Regions from separate parts of the Homo sapiens genome. Here all the other regions are linked to region 4. The links come from fine-mapping of genetic effects on gene expression. A gene starts in region 4. Each other region holds a variant in brackets. All regions are shown on one strand. Distances are from middle to middle.

Region 1 (5,000 bases), 81 kb before region 4:
TCTAGAGGCTGAGCATGGTAACTCATACCTGTAATTCCAGCACTTTGGGAGGCCAAGGCAGGAGAATTGCCTGAGCTCAGGAGTTTGAGACCTGTCTGGGCAACATGGTAAAACCCCATCTTTACCAAAAACACAAAAAATTAACTGGGTTTGGTGGCACACACCTGTGGTCCCAGCTACTTCAAAAGGCTGAGGTGGGAGGGTCTCTTGAGCCTGAGAGGAACAGGTGGCAGTGAACCAATATTGTGCCACTGCACTCCAGCCTGGGTGACAGAGTGAGACCCCGCCGTCTCAAAATAAAAATAAAAAGAAATCGTTTCTAGAAACTGTTTTCCCGTGTGTAAACTAGTGGCACTGCAGCCTGAGGCAGGTGCTGAGATGGGGACCTGGAAAAGGCAACAGGCATTTTGAGTCAGAAACAATGTGACTTTCCTGCTCCAAAATGTGCAATTCAAAAGTCTTTCTTAGTTGTGACTAAAACAAACTTTGAACTTACTATTTCAACAGTATTATAAGGGGAAGACCCAAGGAATGGGACTGGCACTGGGAAAACAGCTAGGAAGCTGCTCTGCACGGCCAGGGAGTCTGGAAGCATCCTGGTACTCCAGAGCGAACAAGGCTGAGCGCTTGATGTGGGGCTTAGAGGCTTAACCAACTTGGTTCGAATCTAGCCACTGCCACTTATTAGTGACAGTGACGAAAGGCTCAGTCTCCTGATATATAAAATGTTGGGAGGATGAAACTAAGTTACACGAAGTGCCTTATACAGCGTGTCAGGCATCCAACAGAGGCCATTATCAACATTAACCACACTGACAGCATTTCAAGCAGAGTATCCGAACAGTTACCCCATCTTCAGGCCTACTGAGTTCAAATATTTGCTTAACAAGAGCAGCCAGTAACTCTTACCTGGCCTCAACTGGCAGCAGATATTCTGGGCCTCAAATATCTATCTAATAGGAAATGGTCACAGACACAAAATAAGCTTAACAAAAGGCAGTTTTTTTTTGTTTTTTTTTTGTTTTCTGTTTTTTGAGATAAGGACTCACTCTATCCCCCAGGTTGGAGTGCAGTAGTGGCGTGATCACGGCTCACTGCAGACTCAAGTGATCCTCCTACTTCAGCCTCTCAAGTAGATGGGACCACAGGCGTGTGCCATCACACCAGGCTAATTATTTTTCTTTTCTTTTTTTTTTTTTTGAGACGGAGTTTCGCTCTTTTTGCCCAGGCTGGAGTGCAATGGTGCGATCTTGGCTCACCACAACCTCTGCCTCCTGAATTCAAACGAATCTCCTGCCTCAGCCTCCTAAGTATCTGGGATTACAGGCATGCGCCACCACGCCGGCTAATTTTTTTGTATTTTTTGTAGAGACAGGGTTTCTCCATGTTGGCCAGGCTGGTCTCGAACTCCCGACCTCAGATGATCCGCCCACCTCGGCCTCCCAAAGTGCTGGGATTACTGACCTGAGCCACCGCACCCAGCCTATTTATTTAATTTTTCACAGAGATGAGGTCTTGCTATGTTGCCCACACTGGTCTTGAGCTCCTGGGCTCAAGTGATCTTCCTGCCTTGGTCTCCCAGTGTTGGGATTATAGGCGTAAGCCACAGCGCCTGGCCGGCAGTTCTTTCTGGGGTGATTAGAAGTTGGGACCATGTATTACCTGTCTGAGTCAGCATTATAAACACCTATGGTCACTGTCCTGGCAAAACATGGAATCATCAAAGCTCATCTAACCAGAGTGCAGTTAATAACCAGGAAGTAAGCAAGAGAAAGACAAAGGATTTGGCAGTCAAAACAGATTTGACAGGCCAAGTCAGATCCTCCTCTGAACGAGTCAGAGGAACAAATAAAGACAGGATTGCCATAATGCCTCTGTGCTAAAAGCTTATCTTGTTTACTTAAATAAAGGGAGTGCCCCTCAGGTCTTGAGTAAGAGCTTGCTGACATCACCCTCACACAGACTTTATCTCTTGTTTCTAACCCTGTGTTAGAAGCAGTAACACAGAAGATTTAGTTGCTCCTGACAGCAGTGGGAGCTATTGTCTAAGAGATACAAAGGAGAAAAAAGTATACCTGCAGCAAGTGATATCACCTCTGGGGCTGCCACCACATCACCTCACTACGCCCTGAGGGGGTCTCAGCACTAGACAAGTTCCAAATCTTTTGCAAATTAAACAACCCCAGGTCAGGCGTGGTGGCTTATGCCTGTAATCCCAGCACTTTGGGGGGCTGAGGTGGGTGGATCACCTGAGGTCAGGAGTTTGAGACCAGCCTGGCCAACAGAGCAAAACCCCATCTCTACTAAACAAAATACAAAAATTAACCAGGCGTAGTGGTGTGCACCTGTAGTCCCAGCTACTTGGGAGGCTGAGGCAAGAGAATTGCTTGAGTCCAGGAGGCCGAAGTTGCAGTAAGCCGAGATCGCGCCACTGCACTCCAGCCTGGGTGACAGAGTGAGACTCCATTTCAAAAAATAAAAACAACAAAAGCCAATTACAACAACAACAACAAAAAAACAACGAATTAAACAACCCCAAAGATTGCACAAATTTCAAGTATCTTTAGAATATGTTTTCAGAAAGCCTGGCCCATGGACATTTTTCAACAGCATCTCCATTGCAAAGGTGGAATGGTGTGAGTCACACAGGCATGGCTGAGTCCCACTAATGCACATCCCTTCTAGGTACTCTCCAATCACCAGCCCCAGGTGCCCACTCAAGCCCAGCTCTTAGTGAGGTTTCCCTGACTCTCTGGGCACTTCCACTCCTACCACACAGGGTAGAGCCACACCCCTTTCCGTACCCCCATGTGCTCTGGCAGCATTATTTTGAGAGCCTTCGCTTTACTGCACGTCTGTCCCATCTGTCCCCTGACTGGTCCATGAGCCCCTGGTGGGAACTTTGTCTCTGGTAACTAAACACTGTCTGGAGGTGGTGGACAAGGTGTCTGGAGAAAAACAAACTCCTCCCTGGGATGCCTGAGCTCCCAGGATTCTAGAAGGTTAGTTTTGCAAACCTTTAAAGAAGGGATTTTCATCAAGGGGCCCACAGATCCTTCA[T/C]TGAGGTTTATGAGTCCCACATCAAAGGTTGGGTGTCTATCTACATCAGATTCTCTTAAAGTCCATGATCCTAAAACAGTTAAGAACTAATGCTGTGAGGGCCTCTTCCTGGGTCAAAGCCACAGGGAACCTGCCATGTGGATGCTGCAGCGGGGTGTGGATCAGCCAGGCCGCCTTTCACTGTGTTCTGTTTTCCCTCCCAGCTTTAGCTCCGCCAAAATGAAACACTCATTAAACGCACTTCTCATTTTCCTCATCATAACATCTGCGTGGGGTGGGAGCAAAGGCCCGCTGGATCAGCTAGAGAAAGGAGGGGAAACTGCTCAGTCTGCAGATCCCCAGTGGGAGCAGTTAAATAACAAAAACCTGAGCATGCCTCTTCTCCCTGCCGACTTCCACAAGGAAAACACCGTCACCAACGACTGGATTCCAGAGGGGGAGGAGGACGACGACTATCTGGACCTGGAGAAGATATTCAGTGAAGACGACGACTACATCGACATCGTCGACAGTCTGTCAGTTTCCCCGACAGACTCTGATGTGAGTGCTGGGAACATCCTCCAGCTTTTTCATGGCAAGAGCCGGATCCAGCGTCTTAACATCCTCAACGCCAAGTTCGCTTTCAACCTCTACCGAGTGCTGAAAGACCAGGTCAACACTTTCGATAACATCTTCATAGCACCCGTTGGCATTTCTACTGCGATGGGTATGATTTCCTTAGGTCTGAAGGGAGAGACCCATGAACAAGTGCACTCGATTTTGCATTTTAAAGACTTTGTTAATGCCAGCAGCAAGTATGAAATCACGACCATTCATAATCTCTTCCGTAAGCTGACTCATCGCCTCTTCAGGAGGAATTTTGGGTACACACTGCGGTCAGTCAATGACCTTTATATCCAGAAGCAGTTTCCAATCCTGCTTGACTTCAAAACTAAAGTAAGAGAGTATTACTTTGCTGAGGCCCAGATAGCTGACTTCTCAGACCCTGCCTTCATATCAAAAACCAACAACCACATCATGAAGCTCACCAAGGGCCTCATAAAAGATGCTCTGGAGAATATAGACCCTGCTACCCAGATGATGATTCTCAACTGCATCTACTTCAAAGGTAAGAGGCACCTTTACAGTTCTCACAGCAAACCCACAACATACTATTTTTGTATGTGGGTAGATTGAATGCCAAGAACTGTACTGTAGCTATAATTTATCCAGGAAAACTAGACACAAGATTGACTCTGGAACGGGGACAGGGAAGGCCAAGCTGAAGTGACAGTAGCATCTGACACTTACTGAGCCCTAACTCTGTGCTTTAACACAGCCTTGTGAGGTCATCACTGTTATTAGCATCCCCATTTTACAGAGGAAGCCACCAACACATGAAGTAAAAGGATGGGCTGGGCGCGGTGGCTCACGCCTGTAATCCCAGCACTTTGGGAGGCCGAGGCAGGCAGATCACTTGAGGTCAGGAGTTCGAGATCAGCCTGACCAACAGACCAACATGGTGAAAACCTGGCTCTACTAAAAATACAAAAATTAGCTGGGCCTGGCGGTGGGTGCCTGTACTCCCAGCTACTTGGGAGGCTGAGGCAGGAGAATCACTTGAACCTGGAAGGCAGAGATTGCAGTGAGCCGAGACTGTGCCACTGCACTCTAGCCTGGACGACAGAGTGAGACTCCATCTCAAAAAAAAAAAAAAAAGAAGTAAAACGATGCTCCAAGGGCACCCAGTTATTAAGGGGCAGAGCCAAAGCTGAACCCAGGGAGGCCAACCCTAGCAATCTGTTAAATTGGAAGAAATAATACAAAAACTGTTTTAGCATTTGGCCAGCCTGGATTTGAGTTTTCTCTTTTCCTTTCCCAATTATCAATAAGCAGGAATATAGACAAAAGGCTAAAGAAATGCACCTGTGAACTATTCAGCTTGAGCAGCTGACATTGAC
Region 2 (5,000 bases), 34 kb before region 4:
TCCTGACCTCAGGTGATCCACCCGCCTCAGCATCCCAAAGTGCTAGGATTACAAGCCTGAGCCACCGCACCCAGCCACTTTTTCCATTTTATATGTTAAAGTCATGTTATCACCTTTGGTGTTGACCTCTTTATTCTGATAAATTTTATTCATAGAAAAAAGCCCTTAATGTCCAACTTTTTAATAAAAACACATTATTCTAACATATTTAAGTATTTCTTTAGCCAACCTACAAATAAATGAAGAATCTAAATTAGTCAAAATACATCACTAACTGGGAACATTTAGAATGCAGACAAGCAACTAGGCACTGTTTGGAAGAACCTAGGAACAGCAGCATACAAAAACTAACTTTCTAAGCGATAAATTTAAGAAAAAGTTGTATGATTACATTCTTTGTTTAAAGAACAGGAAAGTATGAAATACATGTTTGTAACATTTCTATCAAAATTAACAAAATCTAAAGAAAGTCTGTGCCCTTAAAGATAAAAGCTTCAGCTACCTAGAAGATTCTCTTCTAGCTGGGCACAGTGGCTCACACCTATAATCCCAGCACTCTGGGAGGTCGAGGCAGAAGGATCACTTGAGGCCCGGAGTTCAAGACCAGCCTGGGCAACATGGCGAAACCTTGTCTCTACAAAAAATACAAAACAAATTAGCTGGCATGATGGTGCACGCCTATAGTCTCAGCTACTTGGGAGTCTTAGGAGGGAGGCTGGCTTGAGGTGGACGGCAGAGGTTGCAGTGAGCCAAGATTGCACCACTGCACTCCAGCCTGGATGACAGAGCAAGACTGCCTCAAAAAAAGAAAAGAAAATGATCTTCTATGAATGACTTCAATCCCCAACAAAGAGCAAGAAAAATGAGCTGCCTCTGCCTTTTTCTGCCGCCTACCTTAAAGGACTTTCTGAAAAGCTGAAAGGGATAGTGCTGCTCATGTCTCTGCAGCCCCTGCCCTTCATTAGAAAAAAGAAAAAAAAAAAAAGAAAAGTTTAATAAGATAAGACTCGAGATCCTAAAGAGTAGTGAAAGACCTAAGCATGTCTTAGGTCTGCTGTCAACAGGATGAAATAGATAAATATCAACAAACAATTCAATCACATTTCACGTTTTTAAAATCTTTTCATCACTTTGGGACTCTATTCAATCTAATAGAAATGCATACCAAATCAACCAACACATGCTTACCTCATCCCTAAGTGAAGGATCCCTATAGGCCACATCAGACAGCAGAGTTACCAAGCAGAAGCTGAAGCTCTCTGCAACCGGGAGGGCACCTGGAAGATGTAAAAACATAAATCAGATAACCAGGAACCAGATACTGGGTCACACCTCTGGCCATCCAATTCAATATGTTCCCTCTCACCATGACCTGCCAAGGGACCAGTTTACAGCAGCTGCCCTCCTTGAGACGAGTCTCAAAAGAACAGCTATGGGCCCAATGAGTTTGCTGAGAAACACCCTTACCTTTCCTTTAAGTAAATGTTTTGGTTCAATAAACTTAAATGTTTCCTGAGCCAATAGCTAGTGTGAGATAACAAAGCCTCTCAACATGACAGATTCAATTTTTTATTCCCTAAGTAAATGTGATAAATCACACACACACACACACACACACACACACACACACACACACACACACAAAACACTCGGCTGGGCGAAGTGGCTCAAGTCTGTAATCCCAGCACTTTTGGGGGGCCAAGGCAGACGGATCACCTGAGGTCGAGTTCAAGACCAGCCTGGCCAACATGGTGAAACCCCGTCTCTACTAAAAATACAAAAATTAGCTGGGTGTGGTGGCGCACACCTGTAATCCCAGCCACTTGGGAGGCTGAGACAGGAGAATAGCTCGAAGCCAGGAAGTGGAGGTTCCAGTGAGCCGAGATCGCACCACTGTACTCCAGCCTGGGTGACAGAATGAGACGCCATCT[C/CAAAAA]AAAAAAAAAAAAAAAAATCAATTTTGAATATTGAATGTTGAATCAAGGAAAAAAGAGTATCCACTATTTAATAGCTATATTCATAGTACATGACAGAAGACTTACATTTCTACTCCAGCACTTAAAATTTTAAAGTGCAGCTCTAGGCTGTTCTCAAACTTGAATGTGCCCATGCCCGGCCTAAAATTTGACCTTTTAGTAATGATGCTCTATTTAATTTGTAGTCCATCAAATTGCAGGACAGACTGGGTGCAGTGGCTCATGCCTATAGTCCTAGCACTTTAGGAGGCCAAAGCAGGCAGATCACTTGAGGCCAGGAGTTCAAGACCAGCCCAGCCAACATGGCAAAATACTATCTCTACCGAAAATACAAAAATTAGCCAGGCATGGTGATGCATGCCTGTAATCCCAGGTACTTGGGAGGCTGAGGCACGAGAATTGCTTGAACCCAGGAGGTGGAGGTTGCAGTGAACCGAGGTCAGGCCACTGCACTACAGCTTGGAGTGCAGACAGAGTGAGACTGTCTCAAAAAAACAAAAAACAAACAAAATCCTAACAAATTGCAGGTACATGCATAATTTGGGATCTGTCAGTTTTAGGCATGTTACCAGAAATGATGAAAACCCAAAGGTTAAGAGGAATACTGGCACAAACAGAATGTTTTTTAATTTTTATTTCAGGTTCAGGGGTACATACGCAGTTTTGTTATACAGGTAAACTGCATGTTACGGGGGTTTGGTGTACAGATTATTTCATCATCCCCGTAATAAGCATAGTACCCAGAAAGTAGTTTTCCCATCCTCACCTTCCTCCTATTCTCCACTCTTAAGTAGGCCCCAGTGTCTGCTGTTCCCTTCTGTGTTCATATGTACTCGAAGTTTAGCTCCCACTTACAAGTGAGAACATGCAGCGTTTGGTTTCCTGTTGCTGTGCTAATTCTCCCATAACGGTCTCCAGCTCCATCCATGTTGCTACAAAAGACGTGATCTTGGCCAGGTATGGTGGCCTCACACTTGTAATCCCAGCACTTTGGGAGGCTGAGGCAGGCAAATAACTTGAGGCCAGGAGTTCGAGACCAGCCTAGCCAACACGGCAAAACTCCATCTCCACTATAAATATAAAAATTAGCCGGGTGTAGTGGCACATGCCTATAATCCCAGCTACTTGGGAGGCTGAGACAGGAGAATCGCTCGAACCTGGGAGGCGAGGGTTGCAGTGAGCAGAGATCGCACCACTGCACTCCAAGCTGGGTGACAGAGCGAGATCGTCTCAAAAAAAGATAAAATAAAATAAAAAATAAAAGGACATAATCTTTTTCTTTTTTTATGGCTACACAGTACTCCACGGTACACATACGACATTTTCTTTATCCAGTCTTCCACTGATGGGCATTTAGGTTGATTCCTTATCTTTGTTATTGTGAATACTGCTGTAATAAACATACTTACGCATGCATCTTTACAGTAGAATGATTTACATTCCTTTGAGTATATACCCAATAATGGGATTGCTGGGTCAAATGGTAATCCTGTTTTAAATTCTTTCAGAAATTGCCAAACTGCATTCCACAATGGCTGAACTAATTTACATTCACACCAGCAGTGTGTAAGTGTTCCCTTTTCTCTACAACCTCACCAGCATCTGTTATTTCTTGACTTTTTAATAATAGCCATTCTGACTGGTGTGAGATGGTATCTCATTGCAATTTTGATTTGCATTTCTCTGATTATTAGCATCAGATGATGAGCATATTTTTCATATATTTTTGGCCACTTGTATGTCTTCTTTTGAGAAGTATCTATTCGTCCTTGGCTCACCTTTTAACGGGGTTTTTTTTTTGTTTGTAAATTTAAGTTCCTCATAGATTCTGGACTTTAGACCTTTGCATAGTTTGCAAATATTTTCTTTCATTCAGTAGGGTGGCTGTTTACTCTCTTGACAGTTTATTTTACTGTGCAGAAGCTCTTTAGTTTAATTAGGTCCCATTTGTCAATTTTTGTTTTTGCTGCAATTGCTTTTGGCATCTTTGTCATTAAATTTTTGCCATTAAATCTTTGCCAGGGTCTATGTCCAGAGTGGTATTTCCTAGTATCTTCCAGGGTGTTTATAGTTTAAGGTTTTACATCTAGATCTTTAATCCATCTTCAGTTGATTTTTGTATAAGGTGTAAGTAAGGGGTCTAGTTCCAATCTTCCGAATATAGCTAGCCAGTTATCCTAGCGCCATTTATTGAGCAGGGAGTCCTTTCCCCATTACTTGTTTTGTTGACTCTGTTGAAGATCAGATGGTTCCAGGTGTGCAGCATTATTTCTGGGCTCTCTATTCTATTTGTCTATGTGCTATTTTTTTTACCAGTACCATGCTGTTTTGGTTACTGTAGCCCTGTAGTAGAGGTGAAGTTTGAAGTTGGGTAATGTGATGTCTCCAGCTTTACTCTTTTTCAGACTACCTTAGTTATTCAGGCTCTTTTTTGGTTCCATAAAAATTTTAAAATAGTTTTTTTCTAATTCTGTGAAGAATGTCATTGGTAGTTTGATAGGAATAGCACTGAATCCATAAATTGCTCTGGGTAGTATGGCCATGTTAACAATATTGATTCTTCCTATCTATGAGCATGGGATGTTTTTCCATTTGTTTGTGTAAGCTCTGATTTCTTTCAGCAGTATTTTGTAATTCTTGCTATAGAGATTTTTCACCTCCCTGGTTAGCTGTATTCCAAGGTATTTTATCTTTTCTTTTTTTTGAGATGGAGTCTCACTCTGTCGCCCAGGCTGGAGGGCAGTGGCACAATCGCGGCTCACTGCAACCTCCGCCTCCCAGGTTCAAGCGATTCTCCTGCCTCAGCCTCCCAAGTAGCTGGGATTACAGGCGTGCACTACCATGCCCAGCTAATTTTTGTGTTTTTAGCAGAGATGGGTTTCACCATGTTGGCCAGGCTGGTGTCGAACTCCTGACCTCAAGTGATCCACCTGCCTCGGCCTCCCAAAGTGCTGGGATTACAGTCGTGAGCCACTATGCCCGACTGGTATTTTATTATTTTTGTGAATATTGTGAATGGGACTGTGTTC
Region 3 (5,257 bases), 110 kb after region 4:
TGGAATATTATCGTCTTTCCAGAACTATCCCTGGGGCAATATCAGGACCTCAGGCTGCCCGGGGCTCAGAGCCCTCCTGGGTCTTCCTGGGGCCCCTGGTCCACATGCATCTCCACTAAGCCTGAGGGCCCTTCGGGAGAGGCAGCACTTTTAGCCTGCCCTTGGTTTTAGCTTTTGCTCTACGAAGATCTTGTGATTTCTGCCCCACCATGGGGCAGCAGGAACCTCAAGCACAGTGCCTGCGGCAAAGGGAGCCACAATGGACTTGCCCCAGGTCAGGCCTGCACTTGCCTTGTGTCAGGGTATCTCCCCAAGTTGCTGGCCTCAGTCCCTACACTGACCTGTTTCCCCAGCTTTATCTCTGGCACCCCAAACTCAGCAGCCCCGACCCCACTTCCCAAGCACCCCCTGTGCCTGGCTCTGTGCCTGTCATGGTGTCCTGGCAGCAGTCTGGGAGAGTATTTCAGTTACCTGCGGTGTCCTGGGAAGGCTGGAGCAGAGGGGTCCACTCACTGATTGCCAAGGTCACAGAACAGGACTTGCATTGTGCACTGGAGGCCCTGTGGTCTTGCATGAGCCTGGTAGGCCTCTCCCCTCCTGCTTCCAGCCCTCCATCTGGGAGGCCAGCCTGCCCAGGGCTGCTCTGCCACTTAGCAGCTGTGTGGCCCTGGAGAGTCCCTAACCTCACTGAACCTCAGTTTCTCCGTTTGTGAAATGGAGATAATACAAAGAGAACTTTCCTTCTCAGGCTGTTGTGATGGGTAAGGAAATAAATGCATGCAAAATCACAGCTGTAGTTACTATGAGGCACACTGTCTTCCTGGCTAGAGGAGATTCTGAAGGTGGGTGGGGCAGCAAGATCACCACGTGTATGAAATGGGGGCAGGCTGGTTGGAGACTGAGGGCACCAGCCCCAAGCACTGCCATCTGCCCTGTGATGGGACTCTCCTGTGGCAGTGGCAACGGTCCCACTGTGGAAGCAACACATGAGCTGAGAGGACTTGCCTGAACTGAGCCACATGTGCCCTCTGGGCCTGGTCACCCCACCACCTGCCCCCAGTGTGACCCATGCAGGGCCTGTTCCTGACCCTGAACGAGACCAGGACTCCCTGGGCTGCATTTCCTATCTGTAAAATTGTAGGAGGGTGGTGGTGGTGGGGGCTCGAACTTGCCCCCTGGGTGGGGTGGGGCATAAATAGTCCCAGAGGATGGCCTGGGAAGGCTGGCTGGGCCTGGCACAGGGGACTTTACTGCTGTCATTATTGTCCTCCTTACAGGAGAGGAGAGCAAGGCCCAGACCGGGGAGGAACCCACACAGCCTCTGTGCTCCAGCCTGCTTGAAAGACAAGGTCTACCTACAACGCAGAGATGCACACATTAAGGACAATGAAACACCCAAGTGTTAGGAACCAGAATAATCAGCCCTAATAGAGGGGAGGCTGATCAGGGAGGGCCTCCTGGAGGAGGAGGCACAACATCAGGGTGCACTGTGATTTCTGGAGACCCAAGGAGTTCTGGTAAATGACAGGTGAGAAAAAGAAAATGTAATAAAATATAATTGAAAACAGACCCTGGTATGTGTGGAGAGAGGGCCGGGAGGAACCTAGGACACCGGGGAACCTGAACTCCCCCAACCAGTGAAGGGAGCTGTGGGCAGCAAGGTTTGATTGGGGTTTTCTTTCTTGTGGAGGTTTCTCAGAGTGATTCAAGTTCCCCCACCCCGCCCACAGATGGTTCTGAGACTTTGGAAAGAAAGAAAAGGAAAAAAGACCCTGCCCGCGCCCCAGCTGGGCATCCCTGGGAGGTCGCGAGGATCCCCGGAGACCCAGACTCGGGCCCGGGGCGCCCCCGGCCAGAGCGGCCCCTGGCTGCCTCCCTACGCCCCGCGACTCCGGTCCGGACGCCGAGGGCCTCGGCCTGCCCCTGTCCCCCGGCCGCCCCCCACCTGCTCCGGCCCGGCGGGGCGGTGCTGGGCCCGCGGGCTCCCCGGCCGCAGTGCAAACGCAGCGCCAGACACGCCCCGCCCGCGCCTCCCCGCCCCCCCGCGCCCGCGGCCCCAAGCGGTTCCCGAGCCCAGGCCCGCGCCGAGCCCAGGTGAGCGCCCGCCCCGGGGACCCTGGTCCCCGGAACCCCGGTCCCCGCCCGCCGCCCCGCCTCTTCGCCCCGGCGCCGGGGGCCAGCGCTTGCGCTCCCAAGTCTCGGACCCCGGCCCGGCACGTTAGGGGCTGGGGGTTGGCAAGCGGGGCCAGAGGCACTGGCCGGGGTCCGAAGCTCACCTCGTCCTTCTCTCGTCCCACAACGGCCCCTTCCCGGCTCGCCGCGGGGCCCCACTGTGTGCCAGTCCCCCTTCTCGGGCTGCAAGGTCTGGCGGGGGCAACGGGACGGAGCCGGCGAGGCTGCTGGCATCGGCTTCCCAGAGAGAGGGAACTGCACGTGCAGAGGCGGGGAGAGTGGACAGAGGCTTGCCCTGAGCTCCGTGGGGGAGGGGAGAGCGCGGAGCCCCCACACTCGAAGGCAGGACTGGGATCAGATGCCACCCCTAGGACGCCTGGAAGCCACTGGGAGTCCGATCTGGGCAGGAGCCCTTGGGATGAGGCAGTGGGGGCAGGTGGCGAGAGGTGGAGGAGTGGGGAGAGGACCCTGCCCAGCCTGCACCCTGGGGGCGCCAGGAGCCCTGGGAGGGTCAGGTGGAGCAGGGGCCGCTCTGTGAGATGGGAGTAATCCAGTCCCGCCTCACAGGTCCTGGGGTCCCTGGGACAGACACAGACTCCTGCTGGGTGGTTAGCACTGGGCTCTGCTAGAACTTTTCTGCAGTGGGCAGCTCATGGGCAAGGAATAGCACTCGGGCGCTCTGCACTCTGGGGGTCCCTCCTGCCCTGCCCCTGGCAAGGACCTTTGCCTTTGAGTGGGGTGACTGGGCTCCAAGCCGATCTAGCACACAGTAGGCCGAAGGCACAGGGGCCCCACCCAGTCTCCTTCCTGGCCCAGGCCCTGGGGGATTCAGGTCCCTGGGTACTCGGGAAGGGACAGCACAGCCTGGGCAGGTCCCCAGTGGCAAGACCAGGTCTGACCTTTTCTGGGATCTGTGGCCCATCAGGTGAGGCCTGAGGTCAGCCAGGAAGGAAGCGG[G/C]CAGGGCTGAACCAGGGCTGAAACCAGGACCCAGGAAGGGACAGCCTAGTGCCCAGGGAAGGGGCAGGTGGGGCAGGTGGCAGTTGAGTTTTACAGACCTTCTTTGATGACAAGTGGGGGAAAGAGCCAAGGCACGCCCCAGTGGCTGTGGGAGCCACCGCCTCCTCCCCTGTAATGGGCACCTCGAGGACCGACAGGCGCAGGGGCCAGGCACCAAGGGTCCCTCTCCAACCTGGCCTTTTGTTTCCACCCCTTGCTCTCAGGCACCCACCCACGGCCCTTCCTGGTATCTGGACCAGACCAGGTGGGTCTCAGCCCCACCTCAAGTGAGACTTCAGGAAGAACTTCCAGAGGAAACTGGAGGATGGCAGTGGGATGGACTGTGGGGAGGTCATTTGCAAACAAGGCAGCTTATGCCTGTGCCCTGGGCCTTCCAAAGTCCACCTGTAGGCTGCATCTTCCGGAAGGCCCACCCTGTAGCCTGGAAGGCACCTGGCTACAGTGATCTCTCTGCTGTGCAGGTGTCCCCTCCCCCAGGGCACCTTGCAGGGCCTTAGGGTGATATGGGGGCTTTCTGGGCCCCTGCCCACCTTAAAACTGATCAAGGTGGGAGGGTGGGGTGGGAGGCCACAGGGATGCCCCTGCTGCTTGACCTTGATGGGACCTTGACCCCTTGCTTTCCCCATATGCTGTTGGGCATGACTGCCCACAGGCCTGGTGGGCGTTTGTGAAGGGCTGGAGTCGGGGGTAGGGGGAGCTTATGGCTGCTGGGCACAGGCGTGGCAGGGCTGTGTGCCTGGCTTCCCTTTCCCCTAACCCCATCAGGCCCGGGCTGGCCGCCCACTTCTGTTCACCACAGAGCAGGGTTTCCCTGGGGACCAGTGGACTGGCCCAGCCCCACACCGCCCCCCAGCCCCTCCTGGCCACAGCTTGAGCTGGGAGGAGGGTGGAGGCTGGGCCGCCTCCTGGACCCCTGCCCTCCCTGCCCGGCCTTCCAAGGCCCGGCAGCCTCAGTCCACTGCTGGGCCTGGAACACGGAGCAGTGGCTGCCCTGCGAGGAGGTGGGTGTCCGGAGTGCTAGCCAGGGTGGGGCTGGGCTAGGGGGAGCCTGATGTCACCCCCATTGTAGGAGGGAGAAGACCAAGGATGAGAAGGGCTTTGGCTTCCCCAAGGTGACCCCCTCTTTGAGCCTAGGCATAGTGGTCTCCCGGGAGAATGGAGGGTCCCAGAGCTCTCAGGCTGTGGGATTTGGAGAGGGGAAGGGGGGCACGAGGAGGCAGTAGAAATCAGGGAGGATTTCCTGGGCAAGGCAGCCGCGGGGCTGGACGATGGGCGGCCGAGGTTCGGGCAGAGGAACTCCACTGGAGGAGTGAGGGAGCTGAGCTTGGAGGGCTTCAAAGGGGAGGTGACCTCCAGGGCCCCACGCTCTGGGATCAGGCTCACGCCATGGTTCCCAGCTCAAATGTAAGACTCTTTCCGAAGCTCCCACTGTCTCTCTCCGTCCCTCTGTGTCTCTACCTGCCCACACGCCCCGGTCCTGATGGCTCCAGTCTCCCCTGCAGGTCCTAGAGCAGCTCCAGCAGGATGGCGGCTCCAGCGTCTCTAAGGCCTGCAGGGGGTCCAGCCCCATGGGGGGCGCCCTAGGCCTCCGACAGCTCCCCATCTGTGCTCCTGCCTGCCGGCCATCCTCAGGCCACTCGCCATGGGCGGCTGCTTCTCCAAACCCAAACCAGGTACCTCCTGTCTTCTTGTCTCCATCCTTTCTCCTCCCTCCCCGCCTCCTCCTCCCCCGTCTCCCCCCCCTCCCCCTCTGCACTCGGTAGGCCTCCGAAGTAGGTCAGGCTATCCAAGAACCCGCTCGGAATGTTAATACGCTGCCGCCAGGAGGGGGTAGGGGGCCTGGAGCAGTTCCCCCAGCTGGCCCCTGCTCCAGTGGGTGCCCCTTTTTCTTTGGGGCTTTGAGTGTTGGTGGTGGGAATAACAGCAGGACCCTTCTTGGAAAAGGAAAGTCAGGGTTCCTCCTGTTGCAGGGTTGGGGAAGGGGCTATGCCCCCAGGGCCAGGGAAGGGGGGAGCTGGGGACACGCTCAGCCACTCTGTGACCTAGGGCATGCAAGTTACCCCTCTGA
Region 4 (5,211 bases):
GCCTGTCTCAGCCTCCCAAAGTGCTGGGATTACAGGCATGAGCCACCGTGCCCCATCATAAAATATAATCTTGACAACTGAAGCAGTTATTACTACAAAGCTAAGAATGTTGCAATTACAGAATGTTCTCGTGACTAGTGAACATGGCTGAAGAAGCAAATTGAGCTCAAGGTGCCCTTTTCTGAGTTACTGAGTGGAAAGGGTGCTACCACTGCTGGAGCTGCAGGACCAGCTTCTTAAAGATCATCCAATTCACTGCATTCTCTTCTCTCTCCTCCCAGAATCCAGCAATCAGTCATAAGATATATTTGTTGGCTCTCCTGCTAAGAAGCGAATGTGCTGACTAGCTAGCATGAGTTTGATTCAATAAAACAGCACTACACTCCATTAGTCAGACTATCTAATGATAACAGTGCTCATACATTAGGTACCCACGTGCCTTTTTGTTGCTCTTCACAATACTCCTATGAAGTACTACCTTGTATTTGACAGAAGATAGCAAAGTATCAGAGAAGGGAACTGACCTGTCTAGAGTCACACTAGTGAAAGCAAGTGATACAGGATTTAAATTCAGAGGTTCCATTTTCCAAACTCATGTCCTTTCCATTGCATTGTACTCCCTCTTTAGCTAGAAGTCAGGTTAGCACCAATCTGCCGGGACCTTCTCACCCCGAAGGTGCATGATAAAATCAAATATGAGAACCGACAAGGCCAAGGACCAGGTCACTCTGCCAAAAGTGCCTAAAACAGCCTTTCAGCTTCATCCATCAGCAGACAGCCACAAAACCACTCCCAACTGCAGCAGGCTGGTCTCCGGTCACCACTGTCTTATCTTGTCGGAAAACATCCTCTCTCCATGTGCCAAAAAGTTGAGTGGGAAAATAATTCCATCCTTTCAGAGCTAAACACTGTGCTGAGTCTCATCGCACACGGGTGGGCAAAGAAAGTTGACATTTACTGCTCACCCACTCTGTGCCTTGACCTGTGCAAGATGCTTTATGCTAGAACTCATTTAATTCTCAAGAACAACCTCATTTTACAGATAAGGATACAGAGGCTCTAAGAGTTAAATTTACCCAAGAGGACATGGTAAGTAAGTGCCAGTGCAGGGAACAAATTCAGGTCCCACTCTAAAATCTGTCTCTTTCCAGATCTCAAGGCACACCACTGAGTTGCCTTTCACCTTTCTCCCAAGATGAGGATTGCTCTGGCATGACTTCACCTTTCTCTTCTGAAGCAATTCCAAGTTCACTTCTCTGCCCACTGACAGTTCACTCTCCTTTCCCTGCCACTGTCCCTTCTGCAAACGCACAATCTTTTACCCAACCTAACGCCCCCAGCCTCGTAGAATAACACTGCGCAGTTGGTTTACAGTCACAAAGCACTTTCAAGACAGTGTTTCGTCTCCTGGTCACCACAGTCCGGTGAAGCCGGCAAAGCAGATAAAAGCATCCCCATTTTACAAGAAAGCCATCTTCCCAAGGTCGCGGAATAAAAAGCAGGTGAAATCGGAAGCAGAACCCCAGGTCTTGACCCCTGGTCCTCGGCTCATCCCACTGCTCCGCACAGCCGCCCACGATCCAGCCTCCACCTCCGCGATGTCACAAGATGCTCCCTGGGCCAGCAGCTCACATCCCCCACCCCCATCCCACAACCACCCACCTGCAGCGGCCCTGCAGGCCCCGCCGACCCTTCCCCCACGGTCCCTCTCTCTTCACCAGCCCCTCCCACTAGGGCCTCCTTCCCCCGCTAGATCCCTCCGCTCAGGCGCCCCCTCCCGCACAGGCTGCCGGCGAGCCCAGCCTCGGCCTCCCACAGACCCTCGTCCCGCCTCCACGCTTCGTCACCCCAGCCCCTCCTCCTGTCAGCCCGCGGCCCAGCCCGCCGACGTTACCTTCTCCAAGGATGCTGGTCTCTGCACCGCCAGGGAGCGGGCCAGTGACAGGACCGTGTTGAAATAGAAGCCCCGCGAGGCGCTGGAGCCGGAGCCGGAGCAGCCGCCGCCGCCTCCGCCTCCGCCTCCGCCTCCCCGGGCCGGGGCCGCCGCCATCACCTCACGAGCCGCGGCGCTGCCCGCCGGCTCCCCGCTCCTGGCCCGCGAGCGCCCGACCTCAGGGCGCAGGCGTAGGTGCATCCGGCTTTCCCGCCACGTGACCTCTCAGTTGCTGACACTAGATAGGGCGTGGCTGCGGGGCGGGCCCACCGCTGCAGGGGAGAGAGGGGATGGACAGTAGGCTGCGGTTGCGCGCGCCGGATGTGGGCCCCCCCCAGCCGACCTGCGCGATGGTCGGCTCCGAGGGCGGGGCCACCTGCGCGCGACGCGCGGAAGGAGTTCGCGCGACGACCGCGGGGTCGGCGGGCGGGGCGAGGCCCTGGACGGCGGCGGCAGTGGGGCTCCTCCTTCTGTTTCCCAGACCGAGAGCCGCGCCGGCACCATGTCAGCTTACCCTAAAAGCTACAATCCGTTCGACGACGACGGGGAGGACGAAGGCGCCCGGCCGGCCCCTTGGAGGGACGCCCGAGACCTCCCCGACGGGCCCGACGCGCCCGCGGACAGGCAGCAGTACTTGCGGCAGGAGGTCCTCCGCAGGGCTGAGGCCACGGCCGCCAGCACCAGCAGGTCCCTGGCCCTCATGTACGAGTCCGAGAAGGTTGGGGTCGCCTCTTCCGAGGTGAGCCTGGGGCAGGGCTGGTGTGGACTCGCCGGTCTCTGTGCTGTCAAACGGAGACGAGAAATGTTTTGCTCACAATCTTTTGAGAATTCTCAAGTTGCCTAGCATAGATTCTTGCACCTTAGTGACTCGATGGTGGTAACAATCTGTTAACTATGTAAAGGTATGTGCATCTGGAGTACTTGAAGAGGGCAGTTTACCCCAGAAATCTTCCTTAGCTATTAGTCTGCTTCGTTGATTTTTTTTTTCTTACGCCTAGCTCACGGGGAAACGCCAGATTATTTTCTGTCCAGGTGAGTAAAAATTCTGAACAGCAGGTCCTAGGTTTGGGAAATGGAGAGTCCGTTTCTTCGACATTATTTCCTGTGCAAAATCTGGCACAGGGTTTTGGCCATTCCTTCCGGAGTGAGCCAGAAAGAGAGGACTATGTGCCTGCGAGTGTCAGGTGATACCCTGAAGCATCAGGGCAGGTGGTCCACGAGTTCTTCCCGCATCATTGACATCTCCACCTAACCAACCAATAGAGGTATTGAAGTCCCTTCAGCCCAGACAGCTGCCTAGTTGACCAAAGCCTGGGTTTGATTGAGTCCAGGGTCTTACCTTTACTTCCCAAATCCTAGACAAATAGTGTGCGGGTTAAGAGTTTGTTGCTCCAACTCATCTTCATCAGTTCTTCCCATCCTTAGATTTCAGAGAGTAGTACCTTCAATAACAATTATTCTGGCCGAGCGCAGTGACTCACGCCTGTAATCCCAGCACTTTGGGAGGCCTAGGCGTCGGATCGCCTGAGCTCAGGAGTTCGAGACCCGCCTGGGCAACATGGTGAAACCCTGTCTCCACTAAAATTAAAAAAAAAAAAAAACTAGCCGGGTGTGGCGGTGCGCCTGTAGTCGCAGCTACTCAGGAGGCTGAGGTAGGAGAATCGCTTGTACCCGGGAGGCAGAGGTTGCAGTTAGCTGAGATCGTGCTGCTGCACTCCAGCATGGGCAACAGACCGAGATCCTGGAGGGTCTTTTTCTTTTTCTTTTTTTTTTTTTTTTGAGATGGAATCTCGCTCTGTCGCCCTTGCTTGGGTACAGTGGCATGATCTGGGCTCACTGCAACTTCCGCCTCCGGGATTCAGACGATTCTCCTGCCTCAGCCTCCCGAGTAGCTGGGACTACAGGTGCGCCGCCACACCCGGCTAATTTTTTTTGTATTTGTAGTGGAGACAGGGTTTTGCCCCGTTGGCCAGGCTGGTCTGGAACTCCTGACCTCAGGCAGTCCGCCCGCTTTGGCCTCCCAAAGGGCTGGGATTACAGGCGTGAGCCACCATACCGGTCGAGAATGATTCTTTATTGTACACCACAGTCTCTCTTCAGCCTGCTAATGAAACAGTTTTGTTTGGACAGAGAAAAAAAAAGGTTTAAAAAAATGTATAAGCCAGGCGCGGTTGTACTTCTGTAATCCCAACAATTTGTAAGGCTGAGGTAGGCAGATCATTTTAGCCCAGGAGTTTGAGACCAGCAGGGGTAACTGCGTCTCTACAAAATTTGAAAAATTAGCCAGGCATGGTGGCACACACATGTGAGTGCAGCTACTGAGGAGGCTGAGGCAGGAGGACCGCTTGAGCCCAGGATGTCAAGGTTGCAGTGAGCCATGTTCATACCACTGCACTCCAGCTTGGGCGACAGAGCAACACGCTATCATTTCCCCTTGCTGTTTTCTTGGGTTAATTCCCTTCCCCACCTCTCTCTGTTCATGTATCCCTCATTGATCCACCTCCCTGTGGTTTTTTTTTTTTTTTTTTGAGACAGATTCTCGCTCTGTCACCAGACTGGAGTGCAGTGGCACCAACTTGGCTCACTACAGCCTCCGCCTCCTGGGTTCAAGTGATTCTCCTGCCTCAGCCTCCTGAGTAGCTGGGACTAAGGCGTGCACTACCACACCCAGCTAATTTTGGTATTAATAGAGTTGGGGTTTTGCCATGTTGGCCAGGATGGTCTCGATCTCTTGACCTCGTGATCCACCACCTCGGCCTCCCAAAGTCCTGGGATTATAGGCGTGAGCCACTGCACCTAGCCCACCTCCCTGTGTTTAACTGTTGGTTTTTTATTTTTGTTTTGTTTGAGACAAAGTCTTACTCTGTCACCCAGGCTGGAGTGCGATGGTGTGATCTCGGCTCACTGCAACCTCCACCTCCCCAGTTCAAATGATTCTCCTGCCTCAACCTCCCAAGTAGCTGGGATTAGAGGCACCTGCTACAACACCTGGCTAATTTTTTTGTTTTTGTTTTTGTTTTTGTTTTTTTGGTGTTTTTTGTTTTTGAGACGGAGTCTTGCTCTGTCTCCCAGGCTAGAGTTCAGTGGCGCGATCTCAGCTCACTGCTACCTCTGCCTCCCAGGTCAAGCGATTCTCCTGCCTCAACCTCCTGAGTAGCTGGGCTTACAGGCACCCGCCGCCATGCCCAGCTAATTTTTGTATTTTTAGTAGAGACGGGGTTTCACTGTGTTGGTCCGGCTGGTCTTGAACTCCTGACCTCATGATCCACCTGCCTTGG

Evidence for each region. PIP is the estimated chance that this variant, and not a neighbour inherited with it, causes the effect. A credible set is the group of variants that fine-mapping cannot tell apart.
Region 1: its variant is the best candidate, but not a certain one, in a credible set for the expression of SNAP29 in whole blood (TOPMed, PIP 0.62).
Region 2: its variant is the best candidate, but not a certain one, in a credible set for the expression of SNAP29 in whole blood (INTERVAL, PIP 0.74).
Region 3: its variant is the best candidate, but not a certain one, in a credible set for the expression of SNAP29 in whole blood (INTERVAL, PIP 0.61).

Annotation. Positions count from the first base shown.
Region 1 is chr22:20,776,034-20,781,033 of GRCh38, forward strand. All of the region lies in intron 19 of PI4KA (phosphatidylinositol 4-kinase alpha), which reads right to left. SERPIND1 (serpin family D member 1) reads left to right here. Exons shown (of 5, transcript NM_000185.4): 2 at 3,264-4,168. The coding sequence starts at 3,280. Among named protein-coding and RNA genes, the nearest start is that of SERPIND1, 4.4 kb to the left of the region's middle. RefSeq lists an enhancer at 1,768-2,062. The variant T/C (reference allele first, on the strand shown) is at 3,061.
Region 2 is chr22:20,823,138-20,828,137 of GRCh38, forward strand. It overlaps PI4KA (phosphatidylinositol 4-kinase alpha), which reads right to left. Exons shown (of 55, transcript NM_058004.4): 4 at 1,189-1,277. Among named protein-coding and RNA genes, the nearest start is that of PI4KA, 33 kb to the right of the region's middle. The variant C/CAAAAA (reference allele first, on the strand shown) is at 1,932.
Region 3 is chr22:20,963,114-20,968,370 of GRCh38, forward strand. It overlaps AIFM3 (AIF family member 3), which reads left to right and starts at 4,142. Exons shown (of 21, transcript NM_001386814.1): 1 at 4,142-4,190; 2 at 4,692-4,862. The coding sequence starts at 4,832. LINC01637 (long intergenic non-protein coding RNA 1637) reads left to right here. Exons shown (of 2, transcript NR_110537.1): 2 at 1,278-1,567. The variant G/C (reference allele first, on the strand shown) is at 3,130.
Region 4 is chr22:20,856,676-20,861,886 of GRCh38, forward strand. It overlaps SNAP29 (synaptosome associated protein 29), which reads left to right and starts at 2,332. Exons shown (of 5, transcript NM_004782.4): 1 at 2,332-2,672. The coding sequence starts at 2,436. PI4KA (phosphatidylinositol 4-kinase alpha) reads right to left here and starts at 2,136. Exons shown (of 55, transcript NM_058004.4): 1 at 1,895-2,136. The coding sequence starts at 2,050. RefSeq lists silencers at 1,745-1,794, 1,815-2,574 and an enhancer at 2,254-3,063.